Linked DNA regions of Homo sapiens: regions 2, 3, 4, 5, 6 and 7 are each linked to region 1. The links come from fine-mapping of genetic effects on gene expression. A gene starts in region 1. Each other region holds a variant in brackets. All regions are shown on one strand. Distances are from middle to middle.

Region 1 (4,249 bases):
TCCTTGTTTCTAAATCCAGTGGATTCTTTCAGGCCTTATTTTACTTGATTAGTCATAAGCCTTCAACACTTTCCTTCCTTGGCTTCTGAAACACCACATACTACTACTGATCTTCTTACCATTTTGGACACTTCATCTTGATTACCTTTGCAGGTTCGTCCTCCTTTGCCAGACCCTCAAACTTGGGTGTTTCTCAGGGCTCTGTCCTAGGTCTCTTCTGACTCTACACTTACTCCCTGGGCAAGCTCAACAAATCTATTGGTGTGGCTGGCATCTATAAGGCCCCATAGACTCCCACACTGCAACTTCCAGTTAGACTTATCTGGCGAACTCCAGTTAGGCATATCCAATGGCCTTCTGGATACCTCCACTTGGATGTTCCATTGGCACCCCAAGCTCACCGTGCCCAGAACTGACCCTCTCCTAAAAACCCCTGCTTCCTCTCCTTCCTGTTTGCCCAAACCAGGAATCTAGAAGTCATCCTTCATTTCCCTTACTTCCCCCACACCCAATTAGTAACCAAGTCCATTTTTTTCTAGCTATAAGTGTCTAAGGAATTCATCCTGCCCTTTCCATTTCAGCTGCCACTCCATGCTTTGTGCCACCATAATCCTTCCCCACTACTGAAACAACCTCCTAACTGGTCTCCCTCCTTCTCCCAATCCTCAATCCAGTTCCTGCACTAATGTTTCTTTTTTTTTGAGACAGAGTCGCGCTCTGTCACCCAGGCTGGAGTGCAGTGGAGCAATCTCGGCTCACTGCCACCTCTACCTCCCAGGTTCAAGCCATTCTCCTGCCTCAGCCTCCCAAGTAGCTGGGATTACAGGTGTGCACCACCATGCCCGGCTAATTTTTGTATTTTTAGTAGAGATGGGGTTTCGCCATGTTGGCCAGGCTGGTCTCGAACTCCTGACCTGAAGTGATACGCCCGCCTCAGCCTCCCAAAGTGCTGGGATTACAGGGGTGAGACACCACACTGGGCTCTTTGTTTTGTTTTTTGAGACAGGGTCTCACTCTGTCACCCAGGCTGGAGTGCAGTGGCACAATCATGGCTTACTGCAGCTTTGACCTCCTGACTCAAGTGATCCTCCCACCTCAGCTTTCCAAGTAGCTGGGACTTCAGGCATGCGCTACCATGCCTGGCTAATTTTTAAAATTTTAATTTTGTAGAGATGAAGGTCTCACTATGTTGCCCAGGCTGGTCTTGAACTCCTTCAAGCCATTCTCCCGTCTTGGCCTTCCAAAGTGCTGGGATTACGAGTTTGAGCCACCGCGCCTGGCATGCAAAGAGTCTTTCCCCCTCCCTATCTCTAAAAGTCTTTCAAGGCCCAGCTCAAGAGCCAACCCCACTGCCATAAATGCCCCTTCTCTGATTCTGAGCTCCTCAAATCCTTACTCTTCTGTAGTATTTATCTCACACGCAGAATCAGAGTTGCTTCATGCATGGTTTCTCTCCCTCTCCCGTTAAGACATGGGAGAGGGAGGGCCAAAAGCTTGATTCTCACTAGGGCCTAAGGAACCTTATTTAGCCCACCCAGTCTCTGGCACATAGTATGTAAATATGCTGGCACATAGTATGTAAATATAGATAAATGCAAGAAAGTTGCACTCCCAGCTCCTCGGTGGGCCCTATCAACAGGGCATTCTCTAAAGTCATCAACTGAAGACTGCTTCCCATCCACCCATCCATCCATCCATCCATCCATCCATCCAGAATATGCCTCAACCCCACTGGGTGGAGGTTGGGTCGGCACGCGCCCCCTAGGCCGTTTTGTACGGTTTTATACCTCCAGCCCTCGCAGTTGCGGCTGGTAGAGGATGGCAGAGGTAGGTAGACGATGCAAGTCAAAGGGCACACTCTTCCGCCGCGTAGGATAGGACTCTGTTCGGACGAGTGACCCTGCCCATTCCCAGAATACAGCAACTCTTCAGCCGCCTCTCACCTACATGAGAGGGTGGGGACTCTTCCTGACCGGCGCCCCGGCTGACCAATACCTGATCCAGATCAAGCGAATTAGCCAATGGCTGCGGGTCAGTAATAGGGGCGGGGCATGGTTGCTAGGGCCGAGCTAGTGGGGTGAGGCGAGAGGCTCTGGAAGAGACTCGGTGGTTGCTAAGGCGGGAGGTCACAGAGCGCGGCGCAGGGATTGGGCCGTGTTGGGGGAGGTGTGTGGTGATTGGGCGGCGCCCAGGAGGCGCCCGGGTGAGGCACGGGTGCGCAAGCGGGAGTTCCGGCTGGAGACCCGTGCTCTGGGCCGGCGCCTTCACCATGGCCTCGGCAGAGCTGGACTACACCATCGAGATCCCGGATCAGCCCTGCTGGAGCCAGAGTATGGAATGAGGGTTGGGTCCAGGCGCGGGGAGGTGACCTCATGAACCTGTGGGTTGCGAGCGCAGCTGTAGCCCCGCCCCTCATGCGGCCCCGCCCTCCCTCGGGCCGCCCCCTCATAGGGTCTGGCAGGTCCTAGACTTAGAGAGGCTCAGAGAGCCCCGCCCCTCGTAAGTCCCGCCCCAGAGTGTTCCTCCCTGGCGAGCCCCGCCTCTGCCCGAGTCAGCTGCTCGCTTGGGACCTCTTTTTCTGTCTTTCCTGTCCGGGGTGCTCAGGTCCATGCCCTTTAATCACTTCTCATAGCTGAAGGCTGCCGAAAGCTGGATCCCTCCTGATTCCTTTGTTTGGGATTGGGCTTCCCACATCTAGCCTATCACTTATTATTTTCCCGAAGGCGTGGAGGGGGAGGCTCGCGGGGTCACCGATCCTCGCAGAAGCCCGGGACTCAGAACCCTTAGCCGTCCCTCTCCACTCTTCTCGGCAGTGGTTAACAGTGCAGTCTCTGCCGTCGGGTAGAACTCGACTGAAATCCTGACTCCTTCCTTTAGGAGCTGGATTACCTTTGGTAAGCTACCTTCTCTGAACTTCAGTTTCCTCCTCTGCAAAACCGGGATAAGGATAGTAACCTTCCTCATAGGGCTGTTGGGGCCATCTGGAGATTGTGTAAAGGGCCTGGCATGGAGTGAGTTCAGTAATTGGCATTTACGATCAGCATTGTTTCTCTCCTTACATTAAAGAAAGACATGTAGGATTCTCCACAAAATTAGGATTGACAGCAGGCCCGCATCCATGACAGTGTGAGTAGATCGGGGTCCAGAGAGTGGAAAGTTTGGTCTCTCTGGGAATTCTGGCAGAAGGGCCTTGAAGTATGATCAGCCTGAGGCCAGCGTGTCCCTCACTTGCATTAGTCCAGCATCGCCTTCACGCCTCCTGTCTCACTGCCTGCAGCCCAGCCTCTTAAACTGCTACCACAGTGATCTTTCTAATGCAAAGGTTTGATCTTATACTCTGCTCTCCATAAAACTTACCTCCTTAAGGAGAGCCTTCCCAGATCCCTCCCGTAGCATCTCATGTTCTTTGGTTGGAGTCTAGGAGAGGGCAGCCCTTAGACTCCCGCAGAACAGATGGCCCCAGACCAGCTGTTTTTCCCTAGAACTGGATCTGCTGGCTTAGCGCTTTTGGGTTTATAGATGTAAAAATACTTTGGACACGTTTTGGCGTCAGCAAGCCATGAAGTCAGTTAATATTATTTCCTTTGGAGAGTCTTCGGCTGCAAAGGGTTGGAGCTGCCTTCTGCACGGCCAGGAGGGCAGCCTCGTGGTCCTGGTTCACATTTCAGCTCCATGTCTTACAAGTTATATGTCTTTGGCAAGCTATTGAACCTCCCTGAGCCTGAGATTCCTCCACTGTGAAATGGGAAGAGTACTAGTGCCTACCTCCTCGTGGGATTGCGAGGGTTACGAGGTAGCGTTTGGATGTGTGTCCCTGGCACAGTGCAGGTGCTGCCATTGCATTGCTCCCCTGTGGTTCCCCCTCAGCCCCCCTTTCTTTTTTTTTTTTTAAGAGATGGAGTCTCCCCTGTCGCCCAGGCCGGAGTGCAGTGGCGGATCCCATGGCTCCCTTTGCTGCTCCAGGAGGCTGGGTCTTAGAATTGGAAGAAATCTCAGAGACTGTTTTGTCCTGCCTCCCTCTGTTGGCATGAGTGCATTCCATTGCTAGCAGACCCTTCCCTGGGGCGATGCTTCTGCCCAAACATTCTAGCCTGTTGGAGGCAGCTGGGATTGTTAGAAAGCACTTCCCTTTCTTGAGCCACAATAGGCCTTCCTGTAATTTCCGCTCTCAGTTCAGTATTTGCTGTGTCCTGGCTGTGGGATCGTTGTTGGCCACTCAGAAGTGACTCACACGCCCAAGGAGCTGAGG
Region 2 (4,249 bases), 500 kb after region 1:
TTTGCTATCTGATTTTTTTTTGACCTGAGAGTTCCTTTAATATGCAAATTTAGGGCTGTCTAGCTGACAATTGCCTAGGGTAATAAAATAGGTTATCAAGAAATTGAAAGTCTAAAATAGGAGAAAAAAATAGAGGACTTGTGAGTCTGTAAGATTGACTTCTATTTGGTGGTTAATATATCTATATATGTATGTGTCATGCATATGATGTTTTAGTACTAAAAATGTATAAAGGAGCTCTAATTAATTGGCTTAAAAAAGCACTTAAATCAAATACTTTATCAAAAAAAGAGAGACTTTAAACCAAATGCTTTTTCAAGTTCACAAGACTTAAGTAAACTTTAATAAATAAATTGGTTTTAAAATTTTTGGTGAAATAGAAATGGCTTTGGAATTGTCAACATACATTATTTATCTCTGCTAGATGTCAAAATTTGGCATGAGGGTTATAAAGCTGTGAATGCAGCTCAAAAGAGAATTTTCTTTGTTTATGGGCAATGTAATAAATAACATAGTTAATATTGTTTGGTTAATGAAAACAGCTAAATCCTGAATTATTGGCAAAAAAACAAACCCATCTATTTAACCTTAAATTTCTTACTCATGAAAAGCTGAAATTCACAGGTCATAAAAATGGTTAACAAGGAAATATCTTTAAATTATAACTATCACAGTTTTAGTAAGTAAACTGAGTAAACTATTTTTTAAAAATTACTTAGGTAAATGGAATATATGCTTGTAGATAATCTTATCATATAATTTAAAGTCTAAAGTTATATTAAGCTAAATAATAGATATTCATTAAATGTCTGGGCTATTTCCAATTTTTTTAATTATAGGAAAACATTTTTTCTTAAAAAAAAAGAAAGGTGCTCTTATTTAAAGGAAAATAATTTTTATCTAATTCAAAGGGTATTTAAGAGTTACTTAAGAAATTAGGTAAAGGTAATCAATGAATAAGAACAATGTAAAGAAAGTTAAAAACATAAAGAGGTATTTTGGGCAAGAAATGTTAAAAGAAAAATAATTTTCTATGGGAAAGAATCTTACATGGTAAATTTTTGTCCTAAAATAAAATAATTGGTTATTTAAGAAAGAAGGATATCTAGGATAAAACAGGAAGTCCAAGCATGTCATAAATGATTTGTGTCAAGTTGTCTATAATTAAAGAGAAATTATTTATAATAGTTTTTCTAGAGATGGGGTCTTGATGTTTAAAAAAAAACACATATACACTAAAGACTTGTTTATTTATTTATTTATGTATTTTTAAATTTATTTTCTTGAGACAGAGTCTCACTCTGCTGCCCAGGCTGGAGTGCTGTGGTGCAATCTCGGCTCACTGTAAGCTCCGCCTCCCAGCTTCATGCCATTCTCCTGCCTCAGCCTCCCGAGTAGCTGGGACTACAGGTGCCCACCACCACGCCCAGCTAGTTTTTTGTATTTTTAGTAGAGACAGGGTTTCACCATGTTAGCCAGGATGGTCTTGATCTCCTGACCTTGTGATCCGCCCATCTTGGCCTCCCAAAGTGCTGGGATTACAGGCACGAGCCACTGCACCCAGCCGAGAATTGTTTAGAACAATGAAATTTTCTTTAGGGATTCATTTACTCTTAATAAATTATTTGAGACTTTAATTTTTTTTAACCCAAAGTTCAACTTTTATTACGTCTCACCATTTTTGGTTTCCTTTCCCTTTTTAAAATGCGCAAAATAATAATGTTCTCCTTCAACTCATTTTCAGCTCATATAAATATTTTTTGCCTTGGGTTCTGTTTGTTGTGCCTGATGCTAAAAATGTTTTCTTAAAAGTCTAAAGGAAATGTTTTCTTCCAATATAATATTTTGTGCACTGCAGAAGGTCTTTTCTTTTGCATTTTAGTAACTGGTCCAACAGATTTTATATTTTATCAAAACAATTCCTATACCACTACTATAAAGTTTTGGTATGCTTAGGAAAAAAACTGAGATTAAAAAAATTTTTTTAATTAAGTTTATTACATCAGTATATCTTTCTGTATGTTTTTTTTTTTTTTTTCTGAGACAGAGTTTC[G/A]CTCTTGTTGCCTGGGCCTGGAGTGCAATGGCACAATGTCAGCTCACCGCAACCTCCACCTCCCAGGTTCAAGTGATTCTCCTGCCTCAGCCTCCCTAGTAGCTGGGATTACAGGCATGTGCCACCATGGCTGGCTAATTTTGTATTTTTAGTAGAGATGGGGTTTCTCCATGTTGGTCAGGCTGGTCTCAAACTCCCGACCTCTACCTGCCTCAGCCTCCCAAAGTGCTGGGATTACAGGCATGAGCCACTGCGCCTGGCCTTGTATGTACTTTTAAAGTCCTTGTGCCATTAAGTTACAGGGCTTTGACTTCTGGGTCTGAAAAAGACACCAAGTCCTTCTAAATCTTAAACACTAACAGCAATTAAATCCTCATCTTCAAGCCTGGTAGAAGATGCCAATCAAAATAAACTGCGTTCGTGAGACTCAGGGCCACAAATTAAAACTATTCAACTCCTCAAGATTCAGGTACTATCACAGAAGAGATGGGCACATGAGATTGTAAGGGCCGATTTTGAGAGATAAAATAAGTTCAAGTTCTCTATAAATAAACCATTAATGTCAAAGGCACACTGATGCAAGACCAGTATATGAGCCCCTGTGTCAGATTAACAAGGTTTTCTTGGAGCATTAACCCATTCCTTAATAAAAAGTATAAAAGTTATAAAAGGCTTATGGAAATTATATATTATGGTCAAGATAATTAAAATTGTATAGGTTGTTTATAAAATTTTGAAAAACAAATGTAATCAGCCTCATGCTATTTTTATTAGGGCTTATTGTTTGGGAAATTAAGTCTCCTCTCTCAAAGAATAATGGTTTTCACCTTTTTAAAAAAATCTTTGAGTTATCAGTTCAGTTAAATGAATGACTTATTTTATAATGGCCTGTGATCCTATTTGTTATATCAAGCATTTTAAATTTTTTATATTTGACCAACTTTCCAAAGTCAAATTCTAACTTGGGTTCTCATTAATTTTTTGATATTAGCCCCCTGATGTCCAAAAGAGACATATTCAGCTTATTTGGTATAAAAATCATACAAGAAGCCTTGTCAAATATGAAATGCTGTTTAGTATTCTTTGGACTATATTTGTATAAATGTTATTGGTATGTATTCCAAAACTATGGGAAACTCCTATAATTCTGATATGACTTAGTGTATGTTATTATTAATAATTATAATTGTTACATAAAATTGTTCAATGCTATAGAAGTAAGTAACCAAAATTCCTAGTCAATTGTGTTTTTTTTTTTTTTTTTTTTTTTTTTGAGACAGAGTCTCACTCTGTCACCCAGGCTGGACTGCAGTGGCATGATCTCAGCTCACTGCAACCTCCACCTCCCAGGTTATAGCAATTCTCCTGCCTCAGCCTCCCGAATAGCTGGGACTATAGGCGTGTGCCACCACACTTGGCTAATTTCTTTGTATTTTTAGTAGAGACAGGGTTTCGCCATGTTGGCCAGGATGGTCTGGATCTCTTGACCTCGTGATCCACCTGCCTTGGCCTCCCAAAGTGCTGGGATTACAGGTGTGAGCCACTGCTCCTGGCCCAATTGTGGTTTTAATAATGGCTGTCTTATGACTTTTTGTCATCCACAGACAATTGTTGTCTTGTTTTGATCCTCTTCAAAAGGTGGTTTGTAATTAGCAATAGGACTTTGATAGGTGCTCTTGAATGCAGGTTTCTAATAACTTTGGAAATTGTGACATTAGAACAAAGGAAAAAAACTTTCAGGACTCTCATGGAGAGCTGAAATATTCATGAACATCAAACAGAACAGGAGTTAACTGCATGGACTGAGCTAGCAGAAGACTGAAGTAATCCTTTTTGACTTTTTGCTTAAAATGTTGCTGATCCTTCGTTTTGTTTTTCAGAGTCAAGAAAAATTTTCTTAAACACACTCCTGTAAACAAAATTTGGAACATATTTGTTTATCTCTATCTGATTTCTTCAGAATTTGGAAACTGTGAGTATTCTTAACTTATGACAATATAGTTATTTGCATAAGTGCAATAAGAATCTGTTTTGTTTTGTTTTGTTTTGTAACAGGACATAATTGGAGGAACTGTTTATTTTATCAAGGCTTTGACTGGAATGATATGCTTTCCTTTAAAGAATTAAACTTGACTTATAGAGCCAATAAAAGCACCTTGAGAAAACTGGCCTCATACCTTGTCTACACAGCCCCTG
Region 3 (4,249 bases), 47 kb before region 1:
GGACTAGAATTTATGGAGGGCATTTCCTGCAGGGCTTTCCTGTAGATATTTTACAGGCAGTCATTCATTCAGTCCAGCATTCACTCAGTCTTTCGGCACGGCTGCATGTGAACGCCTATGGTGCCAGGCGCGGCATTGGGTGTTGAGGATACAGACTGAATTCATTCATTCGACCAACCCTCCTTAAGCGTGCACAAACAGGCAGCGATGATATGGTGACAGGTGCTGTGGAAGGAGTCAGTGATTGGGCTGTGGGAGCACAAGAGAAAATCGGCAAGGATTGAATGTTTTTGTAAAGAAGAGAAAGGAACCACAGAGCTAGAGGGGGCAGGAGGAGAAGGAGATGCTAAGATGATGGCACACCAGCATAAATGCTACCTTTTTTTTTTTTTTGAGACAGAGCCTCACTCTGTCGCCCAGGCTGGAGTGCAGTGGCGCGATCTCGGCTCACTGCAACCTCCGCCTCCTGGGTTCAAGCAATTCTCCTGCCTCAGCCTCCCGAGTAGGCTGGGATTACAGGCGCCCGCCACCACACCCGGCTAATTTTTTTTTTTTTTTTTTTTTGTATTTTTAGTAGAGATGGGGTTTCACCATCTTGGCCAGGCTGGTCTTGAACTTCTGACCTCGTGATCCACGCGCCTCGGCCTCCCAAAGTGCTGGGATAGCAGGCATGAGCCACTGGGCCCGGTGGGCCCAGCCAGTAAATGCTAGTATTTTTGTTTGTTTGTTTTTTTGAGACGGAGTTTCACTGTCATCACTCAGGCTGGAGTGCAATCGCTCACTGCAACCTCTGCCTCCCGGGTTCAAGCGATACTCCTGCCTCAGCCTCCTGGGAAGCTGGGATTACAGGCGTCTGCCACCACGCCCGGCTGATTTTTGTATTTAGTAGAGACAGGGTTTCACCATGTTGGCAAGGCTGGTCTTGAACTCCTGACCTCAGGCCTCCCAAAGTGCTCAGGCCTCCCAAAGTGCTCCCAAAGTGACCGAGAACTCCTGCCTCGGCCTCCCAAAGTGCTGGGATTACAGGCATGAGCCACCACGCCTGGACTTTTTTTTAAATTTAAATTTTATTTTTTTTCTGAGACAAGGTCTTACTCTGTCGTCCAGGCTGGTCTTGAACTCCTGGGCTCAAGCGATCCTCCTACCTCTGCCTCCTTAAGTGCAGGGATTACAGGTGTGAGTCACTGTGCACCGGGCACTGCTACTCTGAACACATGTGGCTACATGGAAGACAGGACTTGGCCATGTGCTCTCCCCAGCTCAGTAGTCAAGTGCCTCTCTCCATTTACTGGTAAGAGAGAGAGGGTTTAGAGGAACTCTTGTTCCGGCGCTCAGCTCATTTGCATCCCAGAATGCATTGTAGATACGAGAATTATTACCAGGGTTATCTGTTTGAATAATAATATTTAAACTTTTTTTCTTTGTCAGGAGATTTTACCCAGTGAGAACATGTTTAGGACACTTTTCTACAGTGGAAGAAAAGCTTCTGTCTGCAGGTCCAAAGGCACCGTAAGTAGAGGGAGACCAGTCAATAGCTGGGAAGCCAGGCAAAAGGCTAACAGGCAGATCTCTGGTTTCTCTTCATAACGAATAAATCTTTCGCCTTTTACTAAAGATTTCCGTGGAGAAAAACAACTATGAGTTTATGGTTAAATTTTTTGAAGTCTTGCCTAGGCAAGGCTGAATGTTCTGTTACTAAAGAGAGACGTGTGG[G/A]TGGGGTGTTTCATGCTTTGGGAGGTTGGGGTAGCTCCACAAATGTCACCCAGGTTGTAGCGGAGTGGTGTGGTCGCGGCTCACTACAACCTCCATCTCCCATGCTCAAGCAATCCTCCCACCTCAGCCTCATAAGCCTGTCTAATTTTGTGTACTTTTTGTAGTGCCCGGCCTACTGTCATGTTTTTTTAGCTTCTTGTAAACATTTAGGAAGCTAAATGTTTATAAGATTTTTTTTTTTAAAAGAAAACCTAGTTTTTGACAGTCTGTATCTAATAATTTGGCTGAAGTCTTGTGAGTCTTTCTAGTGTGCTAGTTCCAATTTATAGTGATGACTTTGTGTGCATGATTATCTTATACTTTGGACTGGTCTCATATTTGAAAAATTAAGTGTAGGAAAAACTTAAGAGTTAGGATGATGATACTTTCTTCCAGAGATAGTTTTCTTTTGTTTTTATCAGGTACCTGGGGACACAAACAATTCTGGACTACCTTTGTCCACATTCAACACTTGAGGTTCTCTGGACCACCTGGTAGTTATATAATCCATACAAGACCACCTGAGGGCCGGCTTACTTTTGGCCCACCTTGACCTTGAGGGTACTGTCTTCTGGGGTCCAACTTAAAGTATGTATGCTAGAGGTATCAGACTTCCCACCGAGAGCAGAATCTCAGTGCCTTCTCTTTCTTTTGCCCTTTTTTTGTTTTGTTTTGTTTTGAGATGGAGTTTCACTCTGTCACCCAGGCTGGAGTACAGTGGTACGATCTCGGCTCACTGCAGCTTCCACCTCCTGGGTTCAAGGGATTCTCCTGCCTCAGCCTCCCGAGTAGCTGGGATTACAGGTGCGCACCACCACGCCTGGCTAATTTTTGTATTTTTTAGTAGAGACAGGGTTTCACTATGTTGGCCAGGCTGGTCTTGAACTCCTGACCTCAAGTGATCCACCTGCCTTGGCCTCCGAAAGTGCTGGGATTACAGGTGTGAGCCACCACGCCCGGCCTGAGAAGTCTTCTTTATCTGGCTATTGCTACTCATTCTTCTAGGCTCAGCTGAGAAATCAACTTTCAGGAAGCTGCCCCTGGCCTGCTCTCCTCTGCCTTCACTCTTCACTCAGGAGTAGATGTCCTATGTCTCTGAACCCGTAGCACCGTATAGAATTCTTGCTATAGAATTCTAGTACTATCCACTAAATGGTCTCCTCACTAGTGTGTGAACTCCAATGAACATATCTGACACATCTCACTTCTGTTTACCTAGAGCCTGAAACCATTCCATGTACACAATGCATGCTCCATACATCTTGTTGAAAAGACCTCATTGGATTCTGCATTCCAACAGGCGAGGCTTGGGTCATGGCAGCCTAGGACCACGCTTAGAAACCACCAGCCTGGTGGTGGATGACCCCAGAGGAGGCTCTGCAGTGGCCACTGTGGTCCTCATTCACACAGCTACAGAACTTTCCTAGCTTGAATCTTGGACAGGCTGGAGAGCCAGAACTGTGGCAGCTGTCTCCCCGTATACCCCATGGCCAACTTTTTTTTTTTTTTTTTTTTTTTGAGACAGAGTTTTGCTCTTGTTGCCCAGGCTGGAGTGCAATGGCACGATCTTGGCTCACTGCAACCTCTGCCTCATGGATTCAAGCAATTCTCCTGCCTCAGCCTCCCAAGTAGCTAGGATTATAGGCGCCCGCCACCACACCTGCCTAATTTTTTTGTATTTTTAGTAGAGACGGGGTTTCACCATGTTGGCCAGGCTGGTCTCTAACTCCTGTCCTCAGGTGATCCACCCACCTTGGCCTCCCAAAGTGTTGGGATTACAGGCGTGAGCCACTGCACCTGGCCCCATGGCCAACTTTGAGAGTGCTTTGAAGCCAGGACCTTATACTTCTTGGCCACCCCAGAACTGGGCACCACTCTATGGATGCTCATATCATACAACCCAGGCACAACAGAAAGGGGAAGAGTGTGGTCCTTCTCACAGTGGGAGACACAGGGCACCTGGTGAGATGGTCAGAGATGTGGACTGCGTGGATTTACAGAGCACACAGAACAGGTCTCTGCTTCAGCTCCTGCAAACTTTACTTGTTTAACTCCAAACAGACATATGCTGCCTAAAAAGGAACACATGCTGGCGATTTCTAACTTTGTCAGAAAACTATCATTGATGATTTCCAAAAGAGCAGTGGTCTGGGAAGGCAGAGGGAGCAGCCACATCCTGTGTGCTGCAGGCTGCATGCTCAGCTCTCCTGGGTGCTGAAAACACCGGCGGAGGGATGGGGAGCTGACTTCTCCACTCCAGGGCTCAGAGTGCCCTTCGGCAGGAAGAAGAGAATGAGTTTTGGCTGGTGTGTCAATCTAAGGAAAGGCATGGAAAGGCTACTAGTAGAGAACCAGCCTGCCTCCTCGAAATTGCCCTTGTGCCAGATCCTGCTCTCCTCTGCCTCTTGCCCATCATCCTCAGGCTCCAGAGCCTTGAGGCACACTAGAGGGGGCCTGGTCCTGAAGCCCTATAAAAGCTAGTTTTGTCTCATCCTGG
Region 4 (4,249 bases), 630 kb after region 1:
GGCTAATTTTTGTATTTTTAGTAGAGACAGAGTTTCACCATATTAGCCAGGCTGGTCTCAAACTCCTGACCTCAAGTGATCTGCCCACCTTGGCTTCCCAAAGTGGTGGGATTATAGGTGTGAGCCACTGTGGCCGGCCAAGAAAACAGCTTTATTGAGGAGGCAGTGTAGTGTTAGGGATCTGTGACTGCTCCTGCACAGCAGGGCTACCCCATAGGCAGTGTGTAGAGAGTAGCAGCTCAGGGCAGCTCGGCAGTCATGTTTATGCCCACTTTTAAGTACATGCAAATTAGGGGTGGATTATGCAAAAATTTCTAGAACAAGGGTGGTAACTTCCCAGTTGTTGGGTCACTGCCATAGAAAGGGGTGGTATCCAGTTGTTGCCATGGCAATAGTAAACTGACATGGCACTGGTCAGCATGTCTTTTGGAGAGGTGCTTTTGCCTCTTCCCCTTTCAGCTAGTCTCAATCTGGTCCGGAGTCCAAGTCCTGCCTCCTACCTCATTGGCAGTGGTGTGCTGGTAATTATTTTACAACTGGTTAAGAAAGAAACTCTGATTTGTAAAAGTTGCCAATTTCTGTGGTGTAAATAACTTTTATCATTGCTGAACTCACACATTGCTGGTGGCAGCATAAATTGGTAAAACCACTTTATAAAACCATGCGATGCTATCTACTAAAGGTGAAGATATGCATATGCCAGGAGACAGTAACTGTACTCCAAGATGTACAGTATTTCTCAACTTAACCGGACATCCTGAATCACCCCAGGCATGAATCCAATTCTGTTGGGAGAGTTACTGGCTATGCATTCTTTTCCTACTTAAGTCACCTTAGTCTACTCCAAAAGATACACATTATTTGAAACTGAAAAGCTAAAATGGATAAATTATTATATATTCATGCAATGGAATAGTATACCACAATGGAAATGAACATGCTACTATACATAACAGCACAGATAAACCTTATAGATTGAAAACAATACATAGGCCGGGTACGGCGGCTCACGCTGGTAATTCCAACCCTTTGGGAGGCCAAGGTGGGTGGATTTTCTGAGTCCAGGAGTTAAAGACCAGCCTGGACCACCTGGTGAAACCCCATCCCTACAAACAATACAAAAATTAGCCAGGCATGGTGGCACATGCCTGTAGTCCCAGCTATTCAGGAGGCTGAGCTCAGAGGATTGCTTGACCCTGGGAAGCAGAGGTTGCAGTGAACTGAGATCGTGCTACTGCACTCCAGCCTGGGTGACAGAGTGAGACCTTCTCTCAAAAAGAAAAGAATATATACTGTATAATTCTAACTATATGAAATTCAAAAACAGGCAAAACTCTATGTGGTTAGAAGTTAAGCTAGTGGTCACCTTGGGGAGGGCAGAGGGCTGGGATTGGGAGGTAGCACAAGAGAGGCATCTTTACTGGATGGTTATTATTATGAACTAAATGTTGTGTGCCCCCCAAATTCATGCACTGAGTCCCTAATCCCAAATGTGGTGGGATTAGGAGACGGGGTCGTTGGGAAGAAATTAGGTTTAGATGCGGTGATGAGGGTAGGGTCCTCATGATGGGATTAGTGCCCTTATAAGAAGAGACCAGAGAGCTTGCTCATGCTCTCTCTACACTGTGAAGACACAGTGAGAAGGCAGTCATCTACAAGCCAGGAAGAGAGCCCTCACCAGAACCCAACCCCGCCAGCACCTTGATCTTGGACTTCCCAGGCTCCAGAATTGTGAGAAATAAATGTCTGTTGTTTAAGCCACCCAGTCTGTGGCATTTTGCTATAGCAGCCCCAGCAGACTAAGACAGTTATGTTTACACAAATGTGTTCAAGTTGTGGTGACGCATTAAGCTATATGCTTATGATTAATGCATTTTTCTGCACGAATGATTTACTCCAATAAAAAGCTTATTAAACCCAATGCACTGTGTACACACATAAAAA[CAAAGA/A]AAACTAATCATTATCAAACTAAATCAACTTTGCAACACCTCTAATTTGTAGATAAATCTTACTGTGTTCAAAAATTAAGCAAATTACACTGTGGCCAGTCAAACACACAGAAAATTTCACCAAGAGAAACTTAGGTTAATAATAAAACAATTTATTTATGTACTTAGGAGATCCCATCCAAACATAAAGAATATTTTCTAAAGCCCCAAATATTCATTTGTAACCAACTAGCTTAAAACCCAGTCATATCAAAGAAAGTCTCCAGCTCAAAACACAAAAAGAGTGCAGTACCTTCTCCAAAGAAGAAAAACACACATTTTAAGACAAAAATACTCACCATTAAGCAGAAACCTCTGACTCATCTGTTCTTATCTTCCTTCCCATAAAGCCCTTTTATTTCCCCACTCTGACAAAAGCGTCCTTTTAGCTCACTGTGGGGAGGAAGTCTCACAGTCTTCGGTCTGCTCTGAGTGAATGAAGGGGATCAGTGGAATCAGTATTTCCCAGCTTAACTGGACATCCTGAATCACCCCAGGCACGAATCCAGTTCTGTTGGGAGAGTTACTGGCTATGCGTTCTTTTCCTACTTAAGTCACCTTAGTCTACTCCAAAAGAATCGGAAAGTTCCTACCTCCAAGCTTTGGTTTTCTCACATTTTTTCATCTCTCTGGGCCATTGCCATTAGCTACTCCCACATTTTGCCTCTGTAACCGTTTCCTTGACTTCTGCATGGTGAAGTTAGGAGAAGCTACACAGCCCCCAACACATACGTGCGTGCACGTGCACACACACACACACACACACACACACACACACACACATACACACACAATGTTCTCTTATGGGCCCACTCTCCAAACACTCTGGATGCCAATCTTCCCTTTTCTGGATTCAGCCCACCTTTATTGGCCACATCCAGTAAATAATACTATGTAAATTCACAAAGTGTCCACTAGAGGACACTACAATCCTACTTCTAATGCCAATGTGTTGCAGTATGGCGTCTGTAGACTCCTAAGGGATTCTTCCTCTTCCCTATCTAAGCTACCCATGTGTTTCTATCTAATTATTCCTTGTACCAGGCACCTAAGAAGGAAATAGGTGATATGAACAAGGAAGGAAGTAGCACCCCGACTCGTGCCCTCATTCTCAAATCCTTGGTCCCAGGGCAGGATGCTCTCACGATCTAAGCATTCTTTCCCTCAAGATGGATGTGACTGATGGCAGATGGGCTACTAGTGATGTTGATGTCACTGTGCCGGGTCCCCAGCAATGCTCCAGGGGAAGCCAAGAGTTGAACTGGGCCTCAGATCATCAACCAAACCTCAAGCATTTATCAACCATGGCAGCCCCATCTCATGACCAGGCTGGAGCCTGTCTGGACCTGGTTCTTCTGGTTCCCACCATCTGTCCTCCTCCTCCCTCCCTACCACACCACCCTTTACCCCAGGACCAGTGCTTACGGTTCTCTCTCCTCAAAGTCATCAGATCAAAATTCATGACCAACCTCTCATTAGCCCACTCAGAGGAATGGGTGGCTCAATGCTATGAGTACAATTGCTCCATCTTAGGAAAACAAAAATGGGCAACCCTTTGCAAAGAAAACATTTCTATGACCAAAGCTTACTGACTAATACAACATTACTTCTTCTTGTACATTTTAAAATAAAAACAAGCATATCTAAACATAATATTTTCTAATCACAGGAGGCAACAACAACAAAGTAAGCATAAATACTTTCAAGGACATGTCTGTAGCCTAGTACAGAGAATGCTTTTTTTTTTTTTTTTTTTTTTGAGACTGAGTCTTGCTCTGTTGTCTAGGCTGGAGTGCAGTGGCACGATCTCGCTCGGCTCACTGCAGCCTCCGCCTCCCTGGTTCAAGCGATTCTCCTGCCTCAGCCTCCTGAGTAGCTGGGATTACAGGTGCACACCATCACACCTAGCTAATTTTTGTATTTTTAGTAGAGACCAGGTTTCACCATATTGCCCAGGCTGGTCTTGAACTCCTGACCTCAAGTGATGCAGCTGCCTCTCGGCCTCCCAATGTGCTGGGATTACAGGCGTGAGCCACTGTACCCAGCTAAGAATGCATATTTTTAAGCCAGACTGCCTCAGATCAGATTCTAGATTTGCTATTTACTAGCCACATGGACTTGAACCAGTTACTTAACCTCTGCACATCCATTTCCTGAGCTGTTAAAATGAAGAACATATAGTATCTACTTCATAGGATTGTTGTGAAGATTAGATGAGTGTGTGTGTGTGTGTGTGTGTGTGTGTGAGTGTGTGTGTAGTG
Region 5 (4,249 bases), 57 kb before region 1:
CAAGCAATTCTCCCAAGTAGCTGGGATTACAGGCGTGTGCCACCATGCCCAGGTAATTTTTTATATTTTTAGTAGAGATGGGGTTTCACCATGTTAGCCAGGATGGTCTTGATCTCCTGACCTCCTGATCCACCTGTCTCCATACTTCTTGTTGTGTGAATAAGTTTCTACATTTCTAGAAAAAAAAAGTCAAAAATGTCAAAACTGGCACAAGAAAATTTAGTACATTTTTAGTAAAATTTTTAGTAAATTTTAGAATATTTAGTAAATGTTTTATCATTCCATTTGCTTTAATAGCTAATAAAGGAATGATCAAAAATTTTCTGGCCAGGTGCAGTGGCTCATGCCTGTAACCCCAGCACTTTGGGAGGCCAAGGCAGGAGGATTGCTTGAGGTCAGAAGTTCAAGACCAGCCTGGGCAGCATAGCAAGATGTCATCTCTACAAAAAATTTAAAAATTAGCCAGCTGTGGTAGTATGCTTCTGTAGTCCTAGCTACTTGGGAGGCTGAGGCAGGAGGACTGCTTGATCCCAGGAGTTCAAGACTTCAGTGGCCCTCGATTGCACCACTGCACTCCAGCCTGGGACACAGAGCAAGACACTGTCTCAAAAAAAAAAAAAAAAAAAAATGCCAGGCGCAGTGGCTCACGCCTGTAATCCCAGCACTCTGAGAGGCCAAGGCGGGCAGATCACGAGGTCAGGAGATTGAGACCATCCTGGCTGACAGAGTGAAACTCCCATCTCTACTAAAAATACAAAAAATTAGCCAGGCGTGGTGGTAGGCGCCTGAGTCCCAGCTACTCAGGAGGCTGAGGCAGGAGAATGGCATGAACCCGGGAGGCGGAGCTTGCAGTGAGCAGAGATCGCGCCACTGGACTCCAGCCTGGGGGACAGAGCGAGACTCTTTAAAAAAAAAAAAAGTGTATGATCGAATGGTAATAAACTGGATGGGTGGGGGGGGTACTTGGCAAAGCCTGTTTGTTCAGATTATTCTTGGCCTCTGTGTGACATTCATTCCCTGTGGGCATAAGGCAGGACACTGGTCACACGAAGGTCTTCATGGGAGAAGAGAAGGAAAAGGTCAAAAATAACTTCCTGCTTATATAGTTTTCTCAGTTTCTTTGATGGCTTAAAATACTCAGTATGCCAAGGTGCCATATGTTGGGGTATCATGTTCTAAGCCCTGACACCTCTGTAACAACTCAGAATTTCTTCTCCGGGCTTCCTTCAGGTAAGGTGAAAATAAACTTCTTGCTTGTTCAAGCTACTCTTTTTGGAGTCTTTGTTACATACTGTGGAAGGCAGAGGGATGATACAAAATTCAGTATTTGCTATGATGTGGTTTTCTTTTCTTTTCTTTTGAGGTGGAGTCTCCTGTTGCCCAGGCTGGAGTGCAGTGGTGCAGTCTCGGCTCATTGCAGCCTCCGCCTCCTGGGTTCAAGCAATTCTCCTGTCTCAGCCTCCCAAGTAGCTGTGACTACATGCGAACGCCACAACGCCCAGCTAATTTTTGTATTTTTAGTAGAGACGGGGTTTCACCATGTTGGCCAGGATGGTCTCGATCTCCTGACCTCGTGATCCGCCCGCCTCGGCCTCCCAAAGTGCTGGGATTACAGGCGTGAGCCACCGCGCCAGGCCTATGAATACAATTATTTTAAAGCTTTTAATTTTTTTTTTTTTTACTTTAAGTGCCAATTATAAAATAAAGTCACTGTCTAGTTGGACCAGGCATCTACAGTTCTGTAAATCTGGCTTCCGCTCTGCCCCCTGGTGGTGGCCTAACGCCTAGAAAAAGTAACGAACTATTTAAGGTATTTCTGGAAACCGAGGGGGTGGTGACTCAGCGTCATTTACATACCCACAATGCACTGCACACAGACCACGTCCTACTTTAAAAGGAGATTCTCCCTTTTTTCCCCCTCTTTTCCTTTACCATAATAACGAAGCTCCTTTCACACAATCGTCTGAGACAAAAACAGAAGTCACTCTTTTGGGTTAATAGTAACCATTGCTAATCTAGTAGTGACCGTCCCCCGAGGACTGTGTGCAACCATTCCAACACATGCTCTGGTTTCTCTTCAAATCGTATAAATCTTTCGCCTTTTACTAAAGATTTCCGTGGAGAGAAACCGTTTTGAGTTTCAAGCAAATTTTTTGAAGCCCTATGTTGGTGGGGTTCATCAACGGTGTTTAAAAATCAGATAGAAAGTTGTGTGTTTGTTGCGAGGTGTGAGACAACATTTTGTTTGAACATTTATTTTGGGCTGTTGTAATGGTGTGAGTGTGCGTTTTTTATTTTTTTGGAAGTGGGGTTTTAGACTAGACTGTAGTGAGCAATCTTTGCCTGCCGGCTTCAAGGGATT[T/C]TCCTGCTTCAGTCTCTCAAGTAGCTGGGGCTACAGGTGGCAACACCATTCCCTGTTAGTTTTTGTATTTTAATAGAGATGGGGATTTCCCACATTGGCCAGGCTGATCTGCCCGCCTTGGCCTCCCAAAGTGCTGGGATTACAAGCATGAGCCACCGTGCGAAAATTTGGTTTTGTTTTGTGGTTTTGTTTTGTTTTGTTTTTAATTAATTTATTCTAGAAACGGTCTCACTGTGTCACTCAGTCTGGAGTGCAGTGGCACGATTATAGCTCACTGCGGCCTTAAACTCCTGGCCTCAAGTGATCCACCCACCTCAACCTCCCGTGAGCCACCGCTTCCCGCTTGGCCAGTTTAGTTTTTAAAGGGTTTTTTTTTTTTTTAAATTATGATCACTTTAGCCCAGTGGTTCCTAGATTTTTGGATTTCCCAATTATTAAAATTTCCGAAAAAGTTCTGGGGTACTATTTTTTTACCATTATACAAAAGAAAACATTTCAAGACTAAAAACTAAAACCAAACAATGACCAAAAATAAAAAGAAAAAAAAGACTAAAAACTAAAAATGACTTGATCTCTCAGCCTGACGCGGTGGACGCGGTGGCTCACACCTGTAATCCCAGCACTTTGGGAGGCCAAGGCGGGTGGATCACTTGAGGTTAGGAGTTCAAGACTAGCCTGGCCAACATGATGATATCCCGTCTTTACTAAAAACACAAAAATTAGCTGGGCGTGGGCATGGCGGCAGGCGCCTGTAATCCCAGCTACTTGGGAGGCTGAGGCAGAGAATCGCTTGAACCCAGGAGGCGGAGGTTGCAGTGAGCCGAGATTGCGCCACTGCACTCCAGCCTGGGAGACAGAGTGAGACTCCGTCCCCAAAAATAAAATAAAATAAATAAAATAAAATAAAATAAAATAAAATAAAAAAATAAGGCCAGGCGTGGTGGCTCACGCCTGTAATCCCAGCACTTTGGGAGGCCGATGCGGGTGGATCACAAGGTCAGGAGTTCAAGACCAGCCTGGCCAACATGGTGAAACCCCATCTCTACTAAAAATACAAAAATTAGCCGGGCGTGGTAGCGCATGCCTGTAATCCCAGCTACTTGGGAGGCTGAGGCAGGAGAATCTCTTGAACCCGGGAGGCGGAGGTTGCAGTGAGCCGAGACTGCGTCACTGCACTCCAGCCTGGCAAAAGAGCGAGACTCCGTCTCAAAAATAAATAAATAAATAAATAAATAAATAAAATCAGCAAAAATAAAATAGGAAATCCATTTAGCTTTAAAGAAAACATAACAACAAAACATAAATATATTTTGTTAACTTTTCTCTCCTTTGTAGGTACAAAAAGAGGAAAGCTGAGGCTCAAAATAAGTGGGGAAAGCAGAACTGCCTTAGACCAACAATGTCAGGGCTGGTGATGCCCTCTTGTGGCATCCTGGAGAATTACTGCCATCTGACTTCATTTCCTCCGACTTGGAGGGACTATTCCCTCACAATACCTCAGTCACTGATTCATGCATGCCAGGTATTGTCCTAACAGTATCCCTGTCCTCGTGGAGTTTACAGTCAGATGGAGGACATACTATTAATAAACATAATAAGGTAATGCTATGGAAAAAAATAGCAGAGTAAGGTGGGAGGGGAGGTGGTGAGTATAGAGAATGGTAGTGTGCATTGCAATTTTAAAAAGAGTAGGCCTTCTTGTAGAGTTGAAGGGAGATGGGGGAGTGAGCCCTGTGGATATATGGGATGAAGTTCTAGGCAGAGTGAACAGTCAGTACAATAGCGTTGAGACAAGAGCTTGTTTGCCAATTTCTTTTTTTCTTTTTCTTTTTTTGAGACGGCGTCTTGCTCTGTCGCCCAGGCTGGATGGAGTGCAGTGGCGCGATC
Region 6 (4,249 bases), 210 kb before region 1:
GTAATATATTTTCCTTAGGATAGACTTATAGAAATGGAATTACAGGGTGAAATTATATGAATATCTTCAAGTCTTTTGCTATAATGTTGCCAATTATTTTTCAGAGATTTTATCAGTTTATACTCCGACTCCCATTATGTGACAGTAACGGTTCTCAAAGCACTCTTATCAGTAATGAAAATTGTTTTGAATCAGTTAATTTAGTTGGAGGAGAAATTGCATCTTATTTTAGTTTTTTACTTCTTTGAAAATATTTTATATGTTTTTTTAACACATATCTGTTTATTAAGAATATTCTTTGCCCTATTCATAGCAATTATTTTGTCTTTTTATTTGGTGGGATTGTTTGCTAGTAGTCAAGTCTATTGTTCTCCTTTGTGATTGCTTGAGAAGAGCTTATGATTTCATGAGATAAGACAGGTGTTTCTAGGAAGGCTGTGTATAAGAGGGAAAGGAGAAAGTAAGGTTGACCAGGGCACTGTATCCAGCAAGTGGCCTAGGCCCAGGATGTTCACAATGGTTCACTGTAGCTTTGTAACATTTCTTGGCACAGCTCTGAGCTGCCTGCACTTTAACTAGGAAGCAGGAAGAGTAATTGTTTCCTTCATTATGTTTCTAAGTCAACTGCATCATGGGGATTGACCTAATGTTGAGCTCCAGCAGAGGTGGGTGGGACCTGGCAGGGCTGTTTCATAGCCTCTCTTCAAATCATGGATCCTCTCGAAGGTTCTGCCTGATGGGGCCATGTGCCAAGGCTCGTCTGCTTGCCTCTTGCAGTGACAGTTCTTTTTGGTCTGTAATGTAAATATCATGGCCCTGAAATCCCCTAGCTGTCCGTGCTTTGTCACTTCTTCAAAGGGAACTGACTTGTTTTCCAATGGAGGAGGAACATTTGCTGCCTACACTGGTTTGAAGCATTAAAAGGGGAGAAAAAGAGCTAAGAGTAAGTGTTGCTTCATTCTTTGTATTCACATGGAAATTTTTAAATCTTCATCAAAGGATCAGGAGAAAAATCACATTGAAATTCAATACAAGAGCTCACAGCTTAACACAGAATTTTTCAAAATTGATTCTTTAAAAATTGCAGAAACTATGAACTGTGTAGCTCCAGGGTTCATAGTTTTCCTTACCCTCCTCAGCCTCTGCCTCTGTCTTGCCTTCCTTTCTACCTACACTCCATCTGTTTGGTTTTGTGTCAGCATGCAGAGCTTTGAATGGGGGCTGGGAGAGGTGGTGGGAAGTATGCAGCAAGTCAGGTTTATAGAGCTGCCCATACTTTCACCCCTCTCTCAGGCCTCATTATCTCATCTCTCAGAATATTGTAACTGGTCTCCCTTTCTTCAGTTTCCTTATTCCAGGCTTTCTTCCACATTGCTACCAGAATTACCTTAATAAGAGATAAAACTGTTCATGTCACTTTCTTGCTTAAAAACTACCACTGGCAGCCAGGTGCGGTGGCTCACACCTGTAATCCCGGCACTTTGGGAGGCTGAGGTGGGAGGACTGCTTGAGTCCAGGAGTTCAAGACCAGCCTGGGCAACATAGTGAGACTTTGCCTCTACAAATAATAAAAAAATTAGCTGGGCATGGTGGCACATGCCTGTGGTCCCAGCTACTTGGGAGGCCAAGGCAGGAGGATCACTTGAGCCCAGGTAGTCAAGACTGCAGTGAGTTGTGATTGCACCACTGCACTCCAGCCTGGGCAGCAGAGCAAGACCCCGTCTAACAAGGAAAAATTACCACTGGCTTCTCAGTCCAGACTTTCTAGACTGCTACTGTAACTCCTCAGTGGGTTCATCTTACCTGCTGCCGAGATAGAGACGATTTATCAAGATGGGAGAATTGCAATAAAGAGTTTAATACACATAGAGGCAGCTAAACGGGAAACCAGAATTTTATTATTACTCAAATCAGCCTCCCCCAGAATTCTGAGGCTAGGGTTTTTCAAGGATGGTTTGGTGGGCAGGGGTCTAGGGAATGAGTGCTGCTGATTGGTTGGGGATGCAATCATAGGGGTGTGGAAA[C/A]CAGTCCTCTGCTGAGCCCAGTTTTGGATGGGGGCCACAGAGGGGTCACTGGTCCCAGTGGAGTCATCCAGTCATCAGAAATGCAAAAGTCAGAAAAGACATCTTAAAAAGCCAATCTTAGGTTCAACAATAGTGATGTTACTTACAGGAGTAACTGGGGAAGTTGCAAATCTTGTGACCTTTGGAAAAATGATTGGTAATCATGAGAATTCAGGCCCCTCTTGTAATCCTAAATTTGTACGCTTTTATTAGTTTTATAAAGGCAGTTTCATTTTGAGAAGGGCTATTATCATTTAAACTATAAACTGTAATAAATTTCTGGCTAGGCATGGTGGCTCACACCTGTAATCCTAGCATGTTGAGAGGCCGGAGCAAGCGGATCACCTGAGGTCAGGAGTTCAAGACTCCTGACCTCAGGATGGTCAACATGACGAGACACCATCTCTACTCAAAATACAAAAATTAGCCAGGCATGGTGGCCGGCGCCTGTAATCCCAGCTACTTGGGTGGCTGAGGCAGGAGAATCACTTGAACTGGGAGGTGGAGGTTGCGATAAGCCAAGATCGCACCGCTACACTCCAGCCTGGGCCACAGAGCGAGACTCCATCTCAAAAAAAAAAAAAAAAAAAGAAAAAGAAAAAAAAGTCAGGCACAGTGGCTCATGCCTGTAATCCCAGCACTTTAAGAGGCTGCAGCAGGCGGATCACTTGAGGCCAGGAGTTTGAGACCAGCTTGGCCAACATGGCAAAACCCCATCCCTACCAAAAAATACAAAAACAGCCAGGCATTGTGGCATGTGCCTGTAGTCCCAGCTACTTGGGAGGCTGGAGCACAAGAATCACTTGAACCCAGGAGGCAGAGGTTGCAGTGAGCTGAGATCATGCCACTGCACTCCAGCCTGGGCGATAGAGCAAGACTGTCTCAAAAAAAAAAAAAAAATTAGCCAGGCATGTGGCTCTCACACCTGTAATCCCAGCTTTCCAGCCACTCAGGAGGCTGAGGTGGGAGAATCACTTGAACCTGGGAGGCAAAGGTTGCAGTGAGCTGAGATCGCACCACTGTACTCCAGCCTGGGCAACAGACAGAGTGAGACCCTGTCTCAGAAAAAAAAAAAAAAAAGTTTTCTCCCAAAGTTAGCTCAGCCTATGTCCAGGAATGAGCAAGAGCAATTTGGAGGTTAACAGCAAGATGGAGTTGATTAGGTCAGATTTCTTTCACTGTCATAATTTTGTCACTGTTATTTTTGCAAAGGTGGTTTCACCACAAAAAGCTTTCGTGATCTGGCCCCCTTGCCTACCTGATTAGCTTAACCTTCTGCTTTTCCTCTTAAACTCATACAGGCTACTGTCCATTGGATTATGAATTCCTTGAAGTCAGAAATGATGTATTTCCAAGGCCTAGCACAGTAACTCGCATATGCTTGGTAAATGCTACATAAATTAATTAGCAATATAAAATTCTAATAAGGTCACAGTGTGAGAGAACACTGAAAAACATGTGCTAGTTTCTCATCTCTCTGCTTTCCATTGCTAAGTATAAATAAAAACATAAATAAAAAACACACACTGAACTAAAGATCAGGTCCCTTCTTCCCCTAGTACAGATTCCTGATCACTTAGACCCAACATCCTGTCTCAGTACCCACCAGGAAGCACTCTGCTTCTCCGAACTGCCAAGTCAATGCCACATTTGATCTCTGACAGTCCCAAGGTGCCATGACAGGAAAGGATTTGGCTTTTCCTTGTATGCACAGAGCTTTTGATCCGGGTATGTTCCAGACAGTCAGGTTTCTCATATTTGGCCATTCTTTCTTTCTAGGTCAATAACTTCTATCCGGAGTGAACTGATTCCATATTTAGTGAGAAAACAGTTTTCCTCAGCTTCCTCACAACAGGGACAAGAAGAAAAAGAGGAGGATCTAAAGAAAAAGGAGCTGAAGTCCTTAGGTCAGTTCTTGGGTTGGTTCAGTAAGAGGGGCAAGGGTAGCAGCACCTTTGGAAAGAGTGGTTGGGCAGCTTAGCCCAGCCCAAGATGCCTGACTCAAGGCAGCAGACTATTTCTAGCCTACGAGGCAAGACAGGCTTGCCAACCCACTGAGCTCTGGGTAAGCTTGCTCAGGCAGATTCTGCCACTGTGCTCTCGGCAACAGGCTAATCATGCCTCCAGCCCCATTCTCTGATTCATAGCTCTGGTTTGGCTGTGTTCCTCACTAGACCATTTTGCCT
Region 7 (4,249 bases), 72 kb before region 1:
TATTGGCTGGGCATGGTGGCTCGCGCCTGCAATCCTAGCACTTTAGGAGGCTGAAGCAGGAGGATCACTTGAGGCCAGGAGTTTGAGACCAGCCCAGGCAACATAGTGAGACCTTGTCTCTACAAAAAAAAAAAAAAAAAAAATTAGCCAGGTGTGATGGGGCACACCTGTAGTCCCAGCTACATGGGAGGCTGAGGTGGGAGGATTGCCTGAGCCCAAGAGTTCAAGGCTACAGTGAGCTACGATCATATCATGGTATTCCAGCATGGACAACCAAGTGAGACCCTGCCTTTGAAAAACAAAACAAAACAAAGCTGGGGCAATATCCTTTGAGGACATGAACACGGAATGGGACTGCTGCGAGTCCCAACTCTCCTGCATGACCTTACGGTACACCCAGCAAGAAAGGGCCAGCACCACAATAGTCAGGCCCAAGCTTGCAATGGCACCACCTTCCACTCAGGGCCCCCAGAACCTGAAGCTCCAGCCAAGTATTCTGTGAGTCCCTGAGGTAGCTGAATCATTTCAGGGCAATGATGACCCCTAGACCTGGAGAGCTGTGCAGGTCACCAGCCTTCAAGGTACAACTGGCTTTAAGCTGGATCTTTTGGGAAGCTTACCCCCTAGAGTCACAGTCTATCATGTTGTCAAAGTAGGTTTTCACAGACTACTTCTGCAGAGAGACTCCCAACCTCCTAGACCACGAGGCAATGCTGTTATTCTCTCCAGCCCCAGCCATCCCTCTCTATAGCGCCACCAACTGTACTTCTAAACAACCCACAGGCCTAGTGTCTCCCATTTTCAAAATCTCTTTCCAAGGCATACTGTTCCACTGAGGGGGCTGAGCCCCGAGGGAAGAAAAAAGGCCTACCAATGGCTGATTCCTACTCTCCTCAGCATCAGGCTCTGGATTCTACAGAAAAGGTTTCTAGGCCAGGCAGCAAATTTCCTAAATGCACCAGGTCTCTTAAAGGTTGGCCTGATAGCTGTAGATTGGATTCTTTCTCATAGAGAAAGATGCTTGGAACACAGGCAGGACTCAACCCACATAGAAACCACCTGCAAAAGAGGAGCTTCCACAACTCTGAGTCCTAGAAACATAATTCCTGACACAAATTCCATGATAGTAAGCTAGTAGAAATCCACTTACTTTCTTTTGGAGCAGGAATTTTGGAGTTGACGGATCTCCGTTTTTGTTTCTGAAAAACAAATCAAATTGTCACAATATATGGCTCTTATCAATTCTCAAGGGCCCATCCTGGGCCCATGTACTATGCTAAAATGCCAGACAATCAATCAGCAAAGAGTCAATAAGCAAAGTGAATTCTCTGGCGCACTGGCTGCAGCCAGATGACAGGCACCTACCTGGATTGTTACATTTTCCTGCAAGGGCAGATTGTCCTTCGGATGTAAGGGAAGAAGCTGTAAGAGTTCTGGGTTTATTGCAGCCACATCATCAAAATCAATCTGCAAGGAGCAAGTAAAAGTTTCAATGAAACAACATTGTTCAATCCAAATACATTTTTTCTTTTTTTTTTTTTTTGAGACAGAGTATCGCTCTGTCGCCCAGGCTGGAGGGCAGTGGTGCGATCTTGGTTCAATGCAACCTCTGCCTCCTGGGTCCAAGCAATTCTCCTGCCTCAGCCTCCTGAGTAGCTGGGACTACAGGCATGCGCCACCACGCCCAGCTAATTTTTGTATTTCCAGTAGAGACAGGGTTTCACCATGTTGGCCAGGATGGTCTCAAACTCCTGGCCTCAGGTGATCTCCCCACCTCGGCCTCCTAAAGTGCTGGGATTACAGGTGTGAGCCACTGTGCCTGGCCCCCCCGAGGCTGAGGCGGGAGAATTGCTGGAATCCAGGAGGCGGAGGTTGCATTGAGCTGAGATTGAGCCACTGCCCTCCAGCCTGGGCAACAGAGCAAGACTCTGTCTCAAAAAACAAAAAACAAACAAACAAACAAAAAAACAACATAGAAAAAATTAAATTTCTATAGACAGGGGTACCCCTAAATTCAAACTTTACCAACTTTAAGTTCCACTAAGTATGAATAGCTATAAAACAAATAGTTACTCCTTAATAATGGTTTACCATCTAGATGGATATGGGTTTCTGATTTCCAAGCCAATGGTAGACGTCAGTGATGAGAATGAGGTGAAGAGGAGGGCAGACAGGCAGGCAAACAGTCGGGTACTCCACAGCAGATCTAGGCCACTTGGCTCCCCTGCTGATCTGCTGGGCAGTGAGGTCCTGCTGGGCACAGCCCCCCAAGCACCTCTTGATGGCTGACACGGAGGAGGAAACAAGTTCTAACTGTCTGGTGAGAGTCAAATGGGGGCCCTTTAGGATCTTATGGGCAGGGGCAAGTTCCTGACAGCTGCTACCTAACCCTAAGACTACCTAC[A/G]TTTTCTTCTGGGCCCAGAAACTTCCCCAGTTACGGCTTCCTGCCCATGCCTTACCTATTTCCTGTTGATGCCTGCAATGAGGTCACAATTCTAAGTTTACATCATCAGAGTCCTGCAATTCTCCAGGAACAACTCAAACTTCACCAGGATAGCTTTACAACAGGTTCAGACATATTAAATTTGTCCCAACTTTGTATTTCAAAATGTGACAGAGCTGAAGCATGTACTCTAGGGTGAGGGCTTTACTGCCTAGAGATGAAACCTGCAGGACTGGGTGCGGTGGCTCACGCCTGTAACCCCAGCACTTTGGGAGGCCGAGGTGGGCGGATTACCTGACCTCAGGAGTTCAAGGCCAGCCTGGGCAACACGGTGAAACCCCTGTCTCTACTAAAATACAAAAAGTTGGCTGGGTGTGGCAGCGTGCACCTGTAATCCCAGCTACTCAGGAGCCTGAGGCAGGAGAATGGCGTGAACCCAGGAGGCGGAGCTTGCAGTGAGCCGAGATCCCGCCACTGCACTCCAGCCTGGGCGACACAGCGAGACTCCGTCTCAAAAAAAAAAGAAAAAGAAAAAAGAAATCTGCAGTTATTTGCTGCCTATTCAAACATTTGTTAGGCACCACGAAGACAGCAGCCTACAGGGGGAAGGTAGTCAAAGATGAATTAAGACATATATAGGCCGGGCGTGGTGGCTCACGTCTGTAATCCCAGCACTTTGGGAGGCTGAGACAGGCAGATCACCTGAGGTCGGGAGTTCAAGACCAGCCTGACCAACATGGAAAAACCCCGTCTCTACTAAAAATAAAAAATTAGCCAGGTGTGATGCATGCCTGTAATCTCAGCTACTCGGGAGGCTGAGGCAGAAGAATCGCTTGAACCCGGGAGGCGGAGGTTGCAGTAAGCCAAGATAGCGCCATCACACTCCAGCCTGGGCAACAAGAGCGAAACACTGTCTCAAAAAAAAAAAAAAAAAAAAAAAAAAGACATATACAACCCCTGCCACCATGAGCTCAATTTCTAATGGGGATTATAAGTCATATGTACAAAGGAAATCAAAGCAGAATGAGATTTAAATAAAAAAAAAAAAAGGAGGATAGAATCACTAAATGCAAAAGCTGGCAAGCACTTCAGTAATCACACTTCTATCCACACTTCTGGGACAGCCACAGACTCTTGGTACATACCTCCCCCATTTCTAACCCCTAAACTACAGAGAGCATAAACAACAAAGAAAACCAGAGGTTTTTTTTTTTTTTTGAGATGGAGTTTCACTCTTGGTGCCCAGGCTGGAGTGCAGTGGCATGATCTCGGCTCACTGGAACCTCCGCCTCCCAGGTTCAAGTGATTCTCCTGCCTCAGCCTCCTGAGTAGCTGAGATTACAGGCATGCGCCACCATGTCCAGCTAATTTTGTATTTTTAGTAGAGACAGGGTTTTACCACGTTGGCCAGGCTGGTCTTGAGCTCCTGACCTCAGGTGATCCGTCCACCTCAGCCTCCCAAAGTGCTGGGATTACAGGCATGAGCCACCACGCCCGGCCTTTTTTAGACGGAATCTCACTCTGTCGCCCAGGCTGCTGGAGTGCAATGGCGCGATCTCAGCTCGCTGCAACCTCCACCTCCCGGGTTCAAGCGATTCTTCCGCCTCAGCCTCCTGAGTAGCTGGGACTACAGGTGCGCACCACCACATCCGGCTAAGTTTTTGGATTTTTAGTAGAGATGCAGGTTCACTATATTGGCCAGGCTGGTCTTGAACTCCTGACCTCATGATCCGCCCGCTTCAGCTTCCCAGAGTGCTGGGATTACAAGTGTGAGCCACCACGACCCGCGAAAACCAGAGTTTTAAG

The links.
Region 2: its variant is fine-mapped to the expression of ARMH1 in nucleus accumbens (GTEx, PIP 0.97).
Region 3: its variant is fine-mapped to the expression of ARMH1 in whole blood (TOPMed, PIP above 0.99).
Region 4: its variant is fine-mapped to the expression of ARMH1 in anterior cingulate cortex (GTEx, PIP 0.99).
Region 5: its variant is fine-mapped to the expression of ARMH1 in whole blood (TOPMed, PIP above 0.99).
Region 6: its variant is fine-mapped to the expression of ARMH1 in ovary (GTEx, PIP 0.96).
Region 7: its variant is fine-mapped to the expression of ARMH1 in whole blood (TOPMed, PIP above 0.99).

What each region holds. Positions count from the first base shown.
Region 1 is chr1:44,672,412-44,676,660 of GRCh38, reverse strand. ARMH1 (armadillo like helical domain containing 1) reads right to left here and starts at 1,947. Exons shown (of 12, transcript NM_001145636.2): 1 at 1,788-1,947. TMEM53 (transmembrane protein 53) reads left to right here and starts at 2,180. Exons shown (of 3, transcript NM_024587.4): 1 at 2,180-2,330. The coding sequence starts at 2,270. RefSeq lists silencers at 2,008-2,057, 2,128-2,177, 2,328-2,467 and an enhancer at 2,235-2,736.
Region 2 is chr1:44,174,481-44,178,729 of GRCh38, reverse strand. It overlaps LOC124904170 (a long non-coding RNA gene), which reads left to right and starts at 4,105. Exons shown (of 2, transcript XR_007066057.1): 1 at 4,105-4,249. The variant G/A (reference allele first, on the strand shown) is at 2,054.
Region 3 is chr1:44,719,219-44,723,467 of GRCh38, reverse strand. All of the region lies in intron 6 of ARMH1 (armadillo like helical domain containing 1), which reads right to left. It overlaps RNU5F-1 (RNA, U5F small nuclear 1), which reads left to right and starts at 1,566; the gene lies at 1,566-1,683. LOC105378690 (a long non-coding RNA gene) reads left to right here. Exons shown (of 5, transcript XR_007066059.1): 2 at 1,429-1,509. RefSeq lists a silencer at 1-31. The variant G/A (reference allele first, on the strand shown) is at 1,714.
Region 4 is chr1:44,046,525-44,050,773 of GRCh38, reverse strand. All of the region lies in intron 2 of LOC124904169 (a long non-coding RNA gene), which reads left to right. It also overlaps a transcript of KLF17 not described here. Among named protein-coding and RNA genes, the nearest start is that of SLC6A9, 17 kb to the right of the region's middle. The variant CAAAGA/A (reference allele first, on the strand shown) is at 1,945.
Region 5 is chr1:44,728,983-44,733,231 of GRCh38, reverse strand. RNU5D-1 (RNA, U5D small nuclear 1) reads left to right here and starts at 2,062; the gene lies at 2,062-2,163. RefSeq lists a silencer at 3,843-3,892. The variant T/C (reference allele first, on the strand shown) is at 2,363.
Region 6 is chr1:44,881,333-44,885,581 of GRCh38, reverse strand. It overlaps EIF2B3 (eukaryotic translation initiation factor 2B subunit gamma), which reads left to right. Exons shown (of 12, transcript NM_020365.5): 7 at 3,843-3,970. Among named protein-coding and RNA genes, the nearest start is that of PTCH2, 40 kb to the right of the region's middle. The variant C/A (reference allele first, on the strand shown) is at 2,025.
Region 7 is chr1:44,744,602-44,748,850 of GRCh38, reverse strand. KIF2C (kinesin family member 2C) reads right to left here. Exons shown (of 21, transcript NM_006845.4): 3 at 1,366-1,467; 4 at 1,151-1,199. Among named protein-coding and RNA genes, the nearest start is that of KIF2C, 6.9 kb to the right of the region's middle. The variant A/G (reference allele first, on the strand shown) is at 2,405.